2 separate regions of the Homo sapiens genome follow, and region 2 is linked to region 1. Evidence: fine-mapped QTL for protein levels in blood plasma. Region 1 holds a variant in brackets. A gene starts in the other region. All regions are shown on their reverse strands.

Evidence for each region. PIP is the posterior inclusion probability: the model's chance that the variant is causal. The UK Biobank Pharma Proteomics Project read protein levels with antibody pairs (Olink). The fine-mapping took linkage between variants from a reference panel, not from the people measured, so its PIPs are less certain.
Region 2: CD83 starts here. The variant in region 1 is fine-mapped to the plasma level of the CD83 protein (UK Biobank, PIP above 0.99).

The regions. Positions count from the first base shown.
Region 1 is chr19:3,545,005-3,547,504 of GRCh38, reverse strand. MFSD12 (major facilitator superfamily domain containing 12) reads left to right here. Exons shown (of 10, transcript NM_174983.5): 5 at 1-50; 6 at 141-233; 7 at 1,080-1,250; 8 at 1,337-1,431. Among named protein-coding and RNA genes, the nearest start is that of TEKTIP1, 7.1 kb to the right of the region's middle. The variant G/A (reference allele first, on the strand shown) is at 1,239.
Region 2 is chr6:14,116,533-14,119,545 of GRCh38, reverse strand. CD83 (CD83 molecule) reads right to left here and starts at 1,774. Exons shown (of 5, transcript NM_004233.4): 1 at 1,698-1,774; 2 at 1,481-1,596. The coding sequence starts at 1,734. RefSeq lists cis regulatory regions at 477-977, 445-1,271, 842-1,342, 1,508-2,163, 1,347-2,163 and 1 more and silencers at 1,907-2,026, 2,154-2,448.

The DNA.
Region 1 (2,500 bases):
CCCAGACCTACATGGCCATGTACCTCACCTACTCGCTCCACCTGCCCAAGGTGAGCAGATTGGGGCGGGGACGCTGGGATGGGACGGCCCCAGCCTGGCGAGCCATGACTGACACGGCATGCCTGGCTCTGCCTCCGCAGAAGTTCATCGCGACCATTCCCCTGGTGATGTACCTCAGCGGCTTCTTGTCCTCCTTCCTCATGAAGCCCATCAACAAGTGCATTGGGAGGAACGTGAGTGGGCGGGGACCGGGGACAGCTGGGGCGGAGGATGGGGTGCCCTGCAGCCGAGATCCCACCCGCTCCGGGTTCCATCCTCGGATGCTCTCAGGCCTCCGAGTTCCCGCCTTGTAGAAGCCCCAGATCTAGGCCGGGCACGGTGGCTCACGCCTGTAATCCCAGCACTTTGGGAGGCCGAGGCGGGCGGATCACGAGGTCAGGAGATCGAGACCATCCTGGCTAACACGGTGAAACCCCGTCTCTACTAAAGATACAAAAACAAAATTAGCCGGGCGTTGGTGGCGGGTGCCTGTAGTCCCAGCTATTCGGGAGGCTGAGGCAGGAGAATGGCGTGAACCCGGGAGGCGGAGCTTGCAGTGAGATGAGATCACACCACTGCACTCCAGCCTGGGCGACACAGCGAGACTCTTGTCTCCAGAAAAAAAAAGCCCCAGATCTGGGAACAAGGAATTCTAGGATCCTGGCTTCTCTGTGTCTCGAGTTTATACACTCGCAGCCATGGAGCTCTGGCGCTTTCTGTCCACCCTGTGCAGCTACTGAGGGCTTGAAATGTGGCCGTGGGGACTGAGCCGAGTCCGTCGTTTGCTTTCGTTGTAACTGACCTGCGCTCAGGCAGAATAGCCACACGTCTCCAGCCGCTACGGCGTGGACAGAGAGCACAGCTCTGGCATGGAGGATCTGCAGAGCCTCGGTGTTGTGTCCAGGGCCAGAGCCAGGGCTCCTTAGGGACCATCCAGCTCATGCCTTGTTTGCTGGGGTTGGGGGTAGGGGTGGCGGATTGAAGCGCCAGGCTTGGGGGCACCCAGTGGTGTGGGCCTGACCCCGGGGCTGTCCCTGCAGATGACCTACTTCTCAGGCCTCCTGGTGATCCTGGCCTTTGCCGCCTGGGTGGCGCTGGCGGAGGGACTGGGTGTGGCCGTGTACGCAGCGGCTGTGCTGCTGGGTGCTGGCTGTGCCACCATCCTCGTCACCTCGCTGGCCATGACGGCCGACCTCATC[G/A]GTCCCCACACGGTAGGGCTGGTAGCCAGGCTGGGGTGGGGGAGGCCGGGTCCTAGATCTCGGGGTGCACGCTGACCACCTCGCCTGTGTCTCCACAGAACAGCGGAGCGTTCGTGTACGGCTCCATGAGCTTCTTGGATAAGGTGGCCAATGGGCTGGCAGTCATGGCCATCCAGAGCCTGCACCCTTGCCCGTGAGTGCCGCTGTTCGTTCATTCATTCTTTTGTTCAGTAAGAGGGGATTAAGCGCCTGCTGTGTGTCCAGCAGTGTTCTGGGTCTGGGCATCCAGCTGTGGACCAAAGACACCTGCCCCAATGGGAGTCATAGGCAGGGGAGACCTTTCCTTTCTTCCACTGAGCACTTCGTTTATTCACTCAACAAACGTTGGGTCCATGTGTGCAGTGCTGAAGACACCGTACAGAAATATATCGGGGGTGGGCCCAGCTGGAAGGGAGCCCCGAGTCCGTGTAACCCAGACCCACAGAACTCAGGGTTCAGACATGGATGGTTCTAGACCACAGCATCACAGCATTCACGCCTGTAGAGGCCCAGGGCCTGGAAACCACAGCCGGTCTGGGCCTGGGGCAGAGCCAGCCGTGTTAATAGTCACAGAGGTGAACATGTGGTTGGTACCGGCGTGGGTGGTGTGTAAAGGTGAACGCTCAGAGAAACCTGGACAGCCAGGGCAGGAAGCCAGGGAGGGCTTCTTGGAGGAGGTGACGTGGCCCTGACACCTGCAGGATGTCAGAGCATTCCAGGCCAATGGGGAGGGACAAGTAGTGCCAAAGCCCTGGGGCAGGACCACACCTGGCATGTTGTGTTGGAAGAACAGGGAGGAGGCCTGTGTGGCTGGAGTAGAGGGAGGAGGGGAGGGCAGGTCGTGCAGGGCCTGGTGGGCCATGGGGAGGACTTAGGGGATTTGACCCTGAGGACAGTGGGACTCACAGAGAGCTGTGGGCAGAAGAGGGACAGGCCCTGACCCAGGCGCTCACAGACGCCCTCTGGTGGTTGCTGCCGGGAGGACAGCTGCTGGGGGAGAAGTTGCAGCCTGGGACCGGGGCGGGTGCAGGCGGGCCATGCTGGGGCTGGACCATGAGGAGACAGGGAAGGGGAGACATGGTGGATTTGGCATGGATGCTGGAAGCAGGGCCCACAGGACTGGCCGAGCTGTTGGGTGTGGGACAGGAGGGAGGGAGTGGCAGGGCCCCCAGCTCCTGGATTGGACAGGACGGAGCCGCTGTCGGGGGTGAGGGGAGGCACAG
Region 2 (3,013 bases), not on the chromosome of region 1:
CCTCCCTAAGGCTCAGTTTCCTCACCTGTAAAGTAGGAATAGTAACAGTACTAATCCCTAAGTCCATTCTTCCGATGGATGGAAATGGATAATGTATGTAAATATTTACCTTGGAGCTTGGCACGTGGTGAGCATTCAAAAATTGTTTTTACAATATTTTTAAAAATACTATTGTTTTGACTATGAGAACAATTTCGGAATTGTTGTGTTCTCTGATCCCACAGTAAGTAAGGTACCAATGAAGTAGGAATATTTAACACCTTACTTTTATACACAATACAATGCTCTGAGGCAGCAGCACCATCCCCGTCATGCATAACTCATGAAGTGCTGGGCTGAATTCACAGAGCACCTTTGCAATTTATAGGGCAAAAATTAGGTGCCGTGAAGAATACACAGAAGTATGGATACAGCCACTGCCCCCCAGGGAACTGACCATCCAGTTAGGAGACACACACACAAAGAGATCACCGCAATGATGCCTTGTACTGTTAAGTGGCCAAAGACGTACAGTTTCTTATAGTATCTTTTATGGTGGGCAGAAGAACGCCCTGCATTTTGGGGAAAGCTACAAGTGCAGAGATTTGCCCCCGTGGTAAGACAGCAAATCAGTGAGAGCTACAGAGTAAGGTTGTAATATCATATTCATTTGGGTTAAAATGGAGGTGCTGTGGTAGCAGTGGCCTGACTTAAAGAAGGACCAGTGATATCAAACAGTAGCTGCTTGGCTTTGGAATGACACCATCATTGCCATCTTAGAATCTGAGAATGTTTCAGTCAAGAGGAAACCTTGAAAAAGCCTCCTTGTCACTCAGTCCACTTACAGTAGGAGCAGCAAGGCCTGTTCTTACACATGCGGGCTCCGGCTCATGCATCCACCTGATGCTCTCAAGGCTGCCAGAGGAAGGAGGAGGAGGGCTAGGGGAGGAAGCCAAGGGTATCCCACAAAGGAGATGACCACTGATAACTACCATGGATGAAATGGCCTAAGTCACTTCTGTGTCTTAGCCTTTCCTTTCAAATTGCCCCCTCCCCCTCCCATGTATCATGGGCATCACAGTCACAAAACACAAGAAATCAGAAGTCTGGAGACATTCCCCCTGTCCAATGCCCAAATCTAGGTCCCTGTTGCTTTCTTCCTGACCTGCTGGCCCACAACCACAGGTGGCCTCCAGAATTAATCCAAATGAGAGTCTCTGCCCTTCCAAAACATCTTAAGTGGATCATTCATCTCAGGCCACCTTCAGTGACAGGAAGGGGATTGAGGTCTGCGGAGAGCAAAACCTAATTCGGCCCTGTACCTGGATGCGGATGGGGTGGGGGAGGCGCGACGGGAGGCTGGGTACTCCAAGTTCAGCTGCGGGAGACGCCCCTCGCCCCCACCTGGCAGCCACAGAGGGTCGCCAGCCTAGGGGAGATGGTTCCTGCTGTCTTCAAATGAGCCCACCAAACCCCAGCCCGTGGGTATCGCAGCACCTACCTTGACCCAGGAGACCGTGTAGGGAACCTGCGGATCCCAGGGGGCGGTGCAGGGCAAGTCCACATCTTCGGAGCAAGCCACCTTCACCTCCGGCGTCGCGGGAGCCAGGCTGTAGGCTACAAGAAAGAGAGAGCGCGTCGTGAGCAAGCGACCGACGGGAGGGGGTGTCGTGGAGGGGCGGGGGGCGACAGGCGAGACAGGCGCTCGCGAGCCCTACCGCAGCTCAGGAGCAGAAGCTGGAGGCCGCGCGACATGGCTGGAGCGCTGCGCCGCTGCCACGAGCTGCAGAGCTGTGGCGCGCGGGCGCCGGCTGCCCTTTTATGCCCGCGCGTTCGGGAACTTCCCTGCGCGCCAGCCCGGGGGATTCCCCGGCGGGCAGCGGAAGCGGGTGGCGCGCCCTCCTAGTCCCGCTTAGGCCGGGGCGCCCCCGTCCCCGCCCCCTTCGCCCCCGTCCCCGCCCCCGTCCCCGCCCCCGTCGCACCCGCCGCCCTCGCCGCGTGCGCGTCCCCGCCCCCGCGCGCCCGGGCCGGGCGCCCCGAGTTCGCGTCGCTGCTGCGGCTGGCAGCGGCGACAGCAATCCCCGCGTGACGCCCAGCGCTGGGGGCTTTGCAGACCGCGCTCGCGCGCGTGACGCTGCCGTTGACCCGCAAAAGGAAGCCGGGAACCGGGCCATCCGAGCGGGATCTGCCCATTTTACGGAGGCCAAACCAGATTCCGAGAGGGTGGGCAACTTCCTCAGAAGCCCAGCCTGTCCTTGGGAACGCACTGGTGAACCCAAGTCCTCACTCTTCTCCAGAATCTGTGATAATCAAAGGCGCGTTAGATTTCCATGGAAACATACAAGTCTGTAGTACTTGGCTCCCTGCCTTCCCCGGGAGGTTATCAGTCAGTACCGTCCTGTTTAAATTATATCACCAAAGGAGAGTGTCTCCTATTAAAATAATAATTACACGCATACACAACATTTTTGGAAAAGAAAATTCTAGAAGACAATGAAATCACCTGTAATTCATCCAGGAAGTAACTTCAGTTAACATTTTTTTATATTATAAAATGTTTATAACATAACATAACGTAAAATATTTATAACATTTGTCAGTGCACAGATTGGTATTTTTAATGGTTTATTCTTCCTGCTATCTTGTAACCTACTTTCTTTTAGCTTAATAATTTGCAAGCGGTTCCACATCATTAAAAACTTCCAACAGCATCATTTTGGTCCATTGTTCAGTTGCACCATAAATTAGAATCGATTAGTGTTAGACATACAGGTTGTTTCTTTTTGTATTACTAATATTAGAAACAATACTGTGATTGCTATGGGAAACTTCAGTGTAGATAAATCTTTGCTCTAAAATTGCTTATTTTCTTAGAATAAATACCTCAAGGAAATTGTGCTAGGTGAAGGGGAGTTTCCAATTTTGTCAAATATTGCCAAAAAATTACCTGCAAGGAGGTGTCTTCAATCTATATTCCCATCTGCAAAGAGAGTGCCTGTTTGCCAACACAAACTGTTATCCAACCTTTCTATCT